Regions from separate parts of the Homo sapiens genome. Here region 1 is linked to region 2. The links come from fine-mapping of genetic effects on gene expression. Tissue or cell type: whole blood. Region 2 holds a variant in brackets; the other region holds the start of a gene. All regions are shown on one strand. Distances are from middle to middle.

Region 1 (5,223 bases), 55 kb before region 2:
GAGATTTGAACCCAGCAAAATGGCTCCAGAGCCCCAGCTCTTAACCACTTAGCATGTGATGACTATTTGTCAAGTGCACCCCAGGGGCCTTCCGCTGCATCTAGCACACTACAGGCCACTCACACTAGCTGAACAAATGTGTGAGTGAATGGTTAGGTGGTACAGTCAGTTGTGGGCAGATACCTCTGGAACCTAGGAAAGGAGTTTAGTGAAAAGAGTAGTAGGATAGGAAGTAAGTGATTTGGAACTATTGGCCTCAATGTGATAAGAAACACCCTGAGGTTGGGGACCATAGGCATATAGCCTTCATGTATTCAAGGCCTCACAGGCCTAAGAGGAAAATGGGGTGATACTAATGGTGATAACCAAAACATCACTGGTTCTTGTCTCCATCAATTCCCACAGGCTGGAAGGTCACTGTGAAGTACCCTATATCTTTCTGAGGATCCCTATGGTGTGCCTAGCCTGTGCTCATCAACGTCCTTGCTCCTGCCAGGCACCTACACTGTCTGCTACTTCTCCTGAGGCACCTCATTCCCTTGGGACAGCCACTGTGACCATGTCCTGCTGGGATCCCCAGGTCTCCTGCTGCAGTTGATGAGCCAAAAGACTCACTCTGCTGATGCTGTACCCATTCAGCTGCCAAGAGGAGCAGAACATCCGTGGCCCCTTTGTGTTATACTGCATTAGAGGGGTACCCAAGCAGGATGGTATGTGTACCAATGCATCATAGAGACTTCAGCCAAACAGCTCTTCTGTTCTCTACAGGACACAGGCATGCATCCTATGGGGCCTAGGCCACAAGAGAGTCAACAGGCTGTACTTGGAATCAACACTAGAGCTAGCTGGCCATGCCTGGATCCCTCTCCCCTCTGGCGAATTCCATCTCTAGGGGCTCCTTGTTCCCTGCCAAACAGGTTTCCATAAAGCACTCATTTGCCAAGAAGTTCCGGGTGTTTCTGACCGTGAACTTAAGCTCAAGTTTCCCCTAAACCTGCTTTTTTTCCATTGGTAACCCTGCACATAATACTCTGAGATTTTGTTTAGAAAAACAGACTGAAATTTCTTTAGGGCTGTGTGCATGTATTTGGGGCATGAATGAATGTGCCTATTAGCTCATTCTGTTCTAAACCCTATGATTCCCCGGATGTCACGTGCCACCTGTTCCTACTGACTAGGTACCAGGCACTGAAACCACCATTGCAAAATTATAACTGAGATGGTGAAAGGGATCTGACCTAACCGACTCCATCTTGCTTCTCATCTCCAAGCTGTCTTTGTTCATTCCTAGGCATAGGCCAAACTAACTTTGGGGGGAACTTAGTTTATAGTGTAGCTTTGAAACAAAGACAATACCAGCCCTTTCCCAAACAAACCCCCTTCTTGCCCAGGAACTAGACTGCCTTTTCAGGACTAACAAATTAGCCACAAAATTAGAAATTATGGTTTAGGAGTCATGCAGCTAGAGGCTGCAAGATTCTAAACCTCAAATTGCTCCTGGGGATAACATCAACTATTGTAAAACCTAAGATCAGTGCTTAAGATATTTCACAGACACTGCACTCGATGGATCAGCTGGCACCACCCAGATGAATAAACTGGCTCATCTGGTCTTATGACCCCCACCTGGCAACTGACTCAGCACAAGAGGACAGCTTTGACTCCCTGTGAGTTCATCTCCTAGCCTACCAATCAGCACTCCCGACTCACTGACCCCTACCCACCAAATTATCCTTAAAAACTCTGATCCCTGAAAGCTAGGGAGACTGATTTGAGTAATAATAAAACTCCGGTCTCCCTCACAGCCAGCTTTGTGTGAATTACTCTTTCTCTATTGCAATTCCCCTGTCTTGATAAATCGACTCTGTTTAGGCAGTGAGCAAGGTGAACCTATTGGGCGGTTACAGCACTTTAACCATAAACCTTATGAGAAAGTGCCATTTCTCCATTTCACAGGTGAGAAAACTGAGGATTAAAAAGGTTACTCAAATAACTTTCCTAAGGATAAATGTGTGAGTCTTCTAACTCACACATTTATCAATGAACAAAACCGGATTCACAAGTACACTGGAGACTTTACATTTTGGGCAAGGATATTAAGCTAACGGGAGTGAGACAACCCTTCTTCAGTAGAAAAAAGGCGAGCAGCAGGCGCTGCTTTAGTTACCAGCACTTTGCTTCCTCCGTCTCCCCGCGCCAGGCATCGGGCATCCCAACCTCGACTTTGGCCTTCAACTTGGCGCGCTCCGGAGCTAGAGCTCTGCGGTAGCGAATCTGATCGCGTGTCCATGCCCGCCCCCTGTCCCGCCTCCTGGCTTTTGACCCCGTCCTTGGTCCCGCCCCGGGCCCTGGCTCCTGGCCCCGCCCTTGGTCCCGCCCCGGGCCCCTGGCTCCTGGCCCCGCCCCAGCCCAGGCAGGTCACTGCGCCATTTCCTGTCCAAAGCTGGGCGAATCAGGTCGGTGCCGCGGGGTACCCCGGAATCCCCCCTGGGAGCTGGTCCTGCACTGGCCTTCAGAGCCGAGCAGAGGACGCTGCTTTGGGCCCCAGAGCATGGGAAGGTCTTGGCTGCGGTCTGGGACGGCTGCGGTCTGGGACCTGCATGGAGGGCCCGGGACTTGCGGACGCCTGGGAGCGGTTGCTGGGCAACAGTGCGTGCGGCCTGGCCTCTTTGCGCCCGGCGGGCAGCGCGCGTCTGGGGCAGGCTCCGCGCGGGGCTCGGGCACAGGTCCCCGCTGCCGCAGCCCTACCGAGTGAAGCACTGAGCGCGGCGCCGCTTCGCCATCACCTGGCTCTGGCCCTCTCACCCTAGCGTAGGGGGGCACTGGCCAGGCAGTGAGGACCCTGAGATCCATGCCCTGGGAGACAGAGGTTGTCTCCTGTCCATGCACCCGCGCGCCTGCCTTCTAACCTTCATACCGTTGGGCAGATTAATTCACTGGACTAGGCCTCTGTTCCGTGGGAGTTGAAAAGATTTGACCTGGAAGAAACCCTAGCGATTATTCAGTTAAGCCGCAACCCCACCCCCTGTTTTATATAGGTAAGGGTGCTTCACGGTGAGGACTCGTCGCGTGCCTGGTGCTTTACATCAGTCCCCAGAATAGTCCTCGTAGTTTCTCTCTTACTGTTCCCATAGTATGGGTGAGGACTCTGAGGCTCGGAGAGGTTGTGAATTTAGCCAGAATCACACAGCTTGTAACTGGTGGAGATGAGGACACTGAGACTCGATTAAATCACTCGTAGTTTGTTCGTGGCAGATTACGTGTTAGAAGCGTGTTACACTACTATGAAACCTGGCCATAAATGAGAATCACCTGGAAAGTGTTTAAAATCTATATTCGTGTCTGGGCAATGTCCCGGGTTTACTGACTTGAAATCTCGGGCTACGGCTGAGGAAGCTGTATATTTAACAATCTTCCCGATGATTTTTATGATCTGTGGATGAACCACTGAGTACTGCTGGGTACACCACGGGGCCTTCTCGCACAAAAACAACTGTAAAATAATATCTGAGGTACCTAGAGCAGAAGAGACGCTGGTGAGCATGGTAACATTATGTTCTAATCCCTTCAGTCAATTTGTACCCTTTCTTCACTCTTCAGAAACAAGCCAAAGGCAGATTTTAAACAAGTATGGACATTTAGATGCAAATTGCCCCAAGTTTGTTACCTGTCACACATCCACATTTAAGCTTCTGACTAGACCAGCCTGTCATGATCAAAGTCAGGTGTTAGTGTATTTCTCTATCCTTGGCAACCTGTCATCTGCTCTCTTCTCATCTCCATGCCAGGTCCCTAAATCGCCGGGGTTGATGTTGGCTTTGGAAGAACTATTTGCAGAGCGTTTTCTGCACTGGAAGGAGGGCTGGAAGCTTTCTGGAAGCATTGCCGCACGTAAATGAGTGCCTCTTGGCCTAAAACAGCAGTTGGAATGAAAGGGATCACCCTGCTGTTATTCATTGACATAAACAAAACTGTCATAAAAATAATCACTTGGCTCTTAGTTTTAGAAGGCTAATAAGCCTGACCGTTCTGTTTAGTGCTTTATTATTATTAATTTCACCATTATGCTGCATCCCTTAGGGATTCCGGTTCACAATGGATGCTGATAAAGAGAAAGATTTGCAGAAATTTCTTAAAAATGTGGATGAAATCTGTAAGTACTAGTAAATCATAAATTAATTTCTGCTTTAGAGAAGTGGAGTAGATAAATGATTGCTCTAAGTTCCTGGGTGGCTTGACAGGTTTATAACTCTTAGGAAAAAAATGTAATTGAAATTAAAGAGAAGGGTATTGAGAAACAAGTTATAGCCTCAGGGCTGTATTTTCTGGCTGTTAATTGGTATCAGAGAAACTGTTAACATTCTGATAGGAATTCAGGCTGACGGTTTTCTTCCATATTTTGTATCCTTCTATGTGGAATCCAGTCAAAACCAGCTGCTGTTTCCCCATTGACAATGAACCCAGCTGTTCCCTTCAAGGGTCAAGAACCTCATTGATCAGTGTGAGATTCCTCCCGTTTTAGAGTAGAGCCATTTCTGTTTTAGAGCTGCAGAGGCAAAATCAAATGGCTTTCCTTTAGGATCCATCAAATTACATGGATGGTTTATGATCATCATTCCCTTCTCTCTCTCTAGACAAGAAAGTCCTTTCCCAAGTTCAGGCAGGTTGGATCTCAAAGAAATGTACTCTGATCCCACAGATCACATTCAGGAATTTCCAAACCTGTCAGTCCCTGTTCAGGGAGCTTGCTTGAGTATAGAAACAAACAAACCAACAAGCAAACAGACCTTACATAGTAAATACAGGCAATATGCTGAAATTGCTGCTTGTAGCAGATTGTATGGGTTCAAGGAATAAAGTGGTTTTAAAGCTAGCTTGGGTGACATCGTAAATGATACATGAATAATGCTTATCCCTGAATGCTGTTCCATGGAGCTCTGGCCTTGGCCCACTGCCACCTTTCTCTTCAGCTGGTCTAAACATGTAGCTTTACCTGCCACCTGTTTGTTCATGACCCCCACATCTACATGGACACTTAGCCTTCTTTTCTGAGCCTCTGCCTCTATGGTACTGTCATACCTACTGTATCCCACAAATAAACTTAAATGTGTCCAAAATTGAGGCATCATCTCTTTCCCTCCCCTTTGCCCTCCCCCTCCCAAATAAAACCTGCTTCTCCTACCCTCACCTTCATCCTGGTCTCAGTTGGTGACACCACCATCC
Region 2 (5,223 bases):
TGCCGTTAAATTCAGTGGGGTGAGTGGTAGGTGGTGTCTCCCCTGTTAGGAGAACTCTGCGTGAATCATTCTGGGAATCATTCCTGGGGGTCCCTCTGGCACCCTCCTCCAGCCCATCTGGTGGTGCTATAGGCACCCTGTTCCATGGGTTAGATTGTTCTCTGCTAAAGGTGCCAAAGCACAGGCTTCTCTTTCTACAGTGAACCCTGACTGATGCAAATGTGTTGATTTCCCTAACCCACCTTGTACTCTCACCCCATCCCCAGAGGCAACGCTCCCTTCCAGTTGCCCCAGGGTCACTCTAAACCAGGGTCACCTGTGGACTGCAAGTCCCTAAGTGAGAAGTCCAATAAGTGGCATTATCTCTGGCTCCTTACAATCACAGAATCATTTTAGAGTAGGAGGCAGGGTCTTCATGGTACAGTGAATGTCAGGAGTCCCAGACCAAAGTTCCAAAGACTTTTGGTCGTACCCTGCTACCTGCCCTGCCAGCCATGTGACTTTGGGCAAGTTGCTTAACCTCTCTGAGCTTTGGCTACTGCTTCTGGAAACACTAATACCTGCCCAACCTACCTCCTCCATTGTTGTAAAGGTTAAATGAAGTTTTGGAGGTGAAGGCACTTTGGGAATTATAAAGTACTACGCAAATATAAGAGATTACCAGACTCTATCTTGAGATTGAGGGTGTCAACTATGACGTCATTTGGGTTAAGTTTGAAGGGTCTGGGAAAGGATGAAGCTCATGTCCTTTAAGGAATCAAGCTGGCCATTCTCTGAAGCATGTAGGAAAGGAAATCCTCCTCCTCCAGGGAGATGTTATTCAACACACCCAAAGAAAGTGTTCTTCACAGGTAAGGCAGCTGTTGGCTTAAATTAAGAACTTCGTTTCTGAAACGGAGATAAATAATTGGCATTTGGTGACGGGGGTGGGCGGTGGAAGAAAATCAATGGCCTGAGCCCCTCATTCAGATTGATGTACTGCGCATGGCTGGAGGGAGCTCACTGGGGCACTCTGTGGTGGCGCCCTGGGTGGCAAGCAAGTGACAGGCCACTAGCCAGGACCTGCCCATCAGTCCTATCATGCAAACAAACACCCTTCAAGAGGCTACTGAATTGCAAAGGGAGAACGGCTCGATGCTAATCAGAGCACAAAGAAGAAAATTAGAGGGTGCAAAAGTTGCTGTTTTCACAGAATTCCGTGGAGCTTTGAAAACGGAAAGGCTGTTTGTGTTCATAACCACCAGCCCTGTCTCCTTTGAAGTTCAGGCCCCGCCTTCCCCTGCTATGGCTGCCCTCCTTCTTGGCTCTTGAAAATGGCTATGATAGGTGTATTCTCTTCCCCAAAGAGTGGGGAATGTCAAATTACGTTATTATGTTTATTGTTCCAGAGTGCCTGCCGAGAGCAGTCATCTCCAATTTGGAAGAGAGTCTGCTGCACCTGAAGCTCTGTCTCCTCGCAGGTGGGAAGAGATGTTTCACATGCTAGTATTCTCCCTCTCCAGTGTGGATCCACCCCCGCCACCGCCCCAAACTTGTTACCCCTAACACATGCTACCATGCAGACCTTCCAGGCAGCATGGAAAATACCAGCGCCATCTTTCAGAAGGCCTCATCTCCACTTGCCAGGAGCCCCGACACCACCCTTGGAGACACGGCTTGTTCCAGGTAATCAGAGTCTTCTGGTTCAACAAGCAGAGGAGCTGGGATTTTCCATCCTAAAGAGGATGTGGCCGGGATGGAACTCCATCACCATCCTGAAGCCACAGCAGAGGTGGCAGGTAACAGACAGTCCAGAGCTGCTCACTGTCTTCATACATGACGTGAGGACGGTGGTTCCAGTGCGCCGCAAGGTGGGACTGAGGTTCAGAGTTGAGAGGAAACAATAGGAAGGGGCTGAGATGCTGCAACAGGTCACGGGCTGCTATTGTAAACACTTTTTTAAGGATAGGTTCAAATAAGAGCTTCTTGGCTTGGAGAACTGAGGGGAAGTATGACTAAGAAGTATTAGGTTGGTGCAAAACTAATTGCAGTTTTTGCCATTAAAAGTAATGACAAAAACTGCAATTTCTTTTGCACTAACCTAATATTCTGAGGACAAGAAGACATTTAATACCACATGACTTTTTTTAAGTAAGAGGTCTCATTTTCTAAATAACTTGAAAATAGAGGCTCTCCAAGGGTTCCGTTACAGGAGAGAATAATCAGAGGTGAAGAAAACCCATTTAGAGCTGACTCCCTTTCCCAGGGAATGAGCTTTTGGTCCTCATAGACTGGCATCCTGCAGACACGCAGAGAGAAAGAATAAAGCCTGCCTGTGC[ATTGT/A]TTGTTTGTTTGTTTGTTTGTTTTGAAACAGAGCCTCACTTTATCGGCCAGGCTGGAGTGCAGTGGTGTGATCTCAGCTCACTGCAACCTCTGCCTCCCAGGTTCAAGTGATTCTCATGTCTCAGCTTCCCATAGCTGGGATTACAGGCATGCGTCCGTATCCCAAATTTTCATATTTTTATGAAATATGGTGTTTCACCATGTTGACCAGGCTGGTCTCGAACTCCTGACCTCAAGTGATCCACCTGCCTCAGCCTCCCAAAGTGCTGGGATTACAGATGCGAGCCACCATGCCCGCCCCCCCACCCCCCGTGCATTGTGCCTTTGCTCTGCACTAGGCACCCTATCAAAACTTGAAGATCCTGCCCTAACATAAGCCTCATAACGACTGTGAGGTGGGTATTATCTCCACTTTACAGGTAAATAAGATAAAAACAGAATAGTACTTTCCCACCCAGGATCACATAGCCAGGAAGCAGGGGAGTCAGAATTTGACCCCAAGCTGTGTTCTTAACTCTTCCTGCATGTAAAACATTCCTCTCCTTACTAAGTGTGACCTGCAGAAAAGTCACCACATTTCTCAGAGCCCCAGTTTCCTCTCTATAAAATGGGAGCATCAACACCTACCTCTCCTTCTGTGGTTTGGATATAATATACATGAAGTACCTAGCATAGGTGACTGACAGATAGAAAGTATTTACTTAATGGCGACTCTTTTTGAGAACAGAAATGACCATGAGCCCATTATCTGCCCCCTCCCACCCTCACGGATCTGCTTATCTTCCTTGGTCCTCCGTCTCACTGAAGGCAAGCATGTATTTGGCTCTGTTTACCTTTCCCTCTCTCCTGTGACTGGTGGCAAACATGAAGATCCCCCAAGAGCCAGCTGCCAGCCAGAAGCCTGCCTTCTTACATGACCCCATGGCAGCAGGGCCTGAGAGCACTGGTCTTGGGTGGGATGGGGTTCAGAGCAACTCAGGGCTCAGGGATAGGGTAGCAGCGCTCCTTGTCAGGGCCTGGGGCCAGGGGTGCATGGGCATCAACAGGACCCAGTGTGAAGTGGAAGGTGCTAGGATCAATGCTCTAAAATCCTCTTTGCAAACAGATACTCCTCTGTTACTTGCAGTTTGTCCTCAGTTTATAATCAGGAAAACCTGTTGATTGCAATGACTGTAGCTCCAATCATATATTCATCAGGATGTCATTAGTTCTTTTCTCCTAAAGCCCCAGAGCTGCATCCCCCTACCCTCCCTGATGCCCTAGAAAGAGGAGTGCTAGCCCAGCGGGACATCCAGTTGCCCACCACCTCCTCCAGCAGCTCCCGGCCCTGTGGGTGGCCACATGCCAGCCAAGCACTGGGCTTCTGTGACCTGAAGCTGCTGGATGACTTATTTCCTTTTAATAAGACTCCTAATTTGATCTCAATTTCAAAAAGGCAAAATGATGAAGGAGTTCTCCCTGGAGACATTCTGCCCTGTGGTCTGATTTTGCCCTGGGGCTGGATCAGGCTTTCTTGGCTGCTCTGAGGCTCAGCCCTGGCTTAGGTAGGAGGGAGCCTTAGGGTGCTGGCAAAGCAGGGAACAGTGGGCTGCCGATTACCTCTGCCAGCCACCCCAGCCTCAGATCTCCCCAGTTCTGGAGCAGGGCTCCTGTCACCAGCGGGTTGGAAGGAACTGCTTTAAATGAGGGTGGCTGCCTGCCAGATGTGCTGATTCAGCTCAGCCTGAGCATCACTCCATTGTCACATCTGTCCCCAACTTTATGTTTGGGCTTCTTATCTTCAGCAGCTCTGGATGCTCATTTAGATCCCTCAACTCCCCTCGGGCAACAAGCACACACATACACACACCCCCACACACACGGAATTCATCTCGCTGCTGCTGGGAGATGAATTTGCACATTAAAATAGGTGAGTTAACGTGCAAGGTGATTTACACTAGATCAAAGGCACAGCAAGATAGTGAGAATTATTGGAACAAGAGGCTGAAGAAAAGGCTCCTAGAATGTCCAAGCTGAAAAGTATTCAGGGATCATCTAATCCTCTACAGTCATCCCTTTGTATCCACCAGGGATTGATACCACAGATACCAAAGCCCTGGGATGCTCAGGTCCCCTATATGAAATGCATCATATTTGCATATAACCTACATACATTCTCATATACTTTAAATCATCTCTAGATTGCTTATAATACCTAACACAATGTAAATTCTATGTAAATAGTGGATATACTGTATTTCTTAAAATTTGTATTATTTTTTATTGTTGGAGTGTTATTTTTATTGTTTTTTCCCCAAATATTTTTGATCTGCAGTTGGTTGAATCTGCAAATTTGGAACCCGAGGGTACAGAGGGCTGACTGTATCTGCTTTGTTGGAGTCCATCTGATTCATTGTCTAAATACAATTAATTGCTCCAAAATGGCTAGTCCATGCCCCCTTATTTTATAAATAAGGAATCTGAGACTCAGAAAGGCCAAGTGAAGTATCTTCAATGTTCTTACCTTTGTTCAAGAACCCTCTGAACTAATGGTCCAGAGTGGGGTAGGGACTCCAACAAGACCCGGAGAGGCAGGAAGCTCAGTGGTGGGAGTGCAGGCTCAAAGTCCTCCTCCACCTTGCTTTAAATTTCATAACCTCGCTTTAAGTTTTAAGTTTCATAACCTTAGTGAGTGGCTTAGCCCCTCGATTGCCTTGTCTGTAAAAGGCAATAGGGGAGATATGATACCCACTTCTTAGGTTTGTTGTGGGGATTAAATGAGATGATTTCTATAAAGCTCTCATCACCGTACTTGGCACATGGAAGCCCTGAGGAGATGGGCACTCCTGTTGTGGTCATGTTGGTTGAGCATACTTCCATAGATGGCCCCACCCGGCCATCCCTATATGCTCTTTTCTGGGG

What was found. PIP is the estimated chance that this variant, and not a neighbour inherited with it, causes the effect.
Region 1: TTC12 starts here. The variant in region 2 is fine-mapped to the expression of TTC12 in whole blood (TOPMed, PIP above 0.99).

The regions. Positions count from the first base shown.
Region 1 is chr11:113,312,163-113,317,385 of GRCh38, forward strand. It overlaps TTC12 (tetratricopeptide repeat domain 12), which reads left to right and starts at 2,421. Exons shown (of 22, transcript NM_017868.4): 1 at 2,421-2,456; 2 at 4,081-4,153. The coding sequence starts at 4,096. TTC12-DT (TTC12 divergent transcript) reads right to left here and starts at 2,294. Exons shown (of 5, transcript NR_199709.1): 1 at 2,168-2,294. RefSeq lists silencers at 2,232-2,481, 2,505-2,799, 2,692-2,791.
Region 2 is chr11:113,366,799-113,372,021 of GRCh38, forward strand. It overlaps a transcript of TTC12 not described here. Among named protein-coding and RNA genes, the nearest start is that of ANKK1, 18 kb to the right of the region's middle. The variant ATTGT/A (reference allele first, on the strand shown) is at 2,319.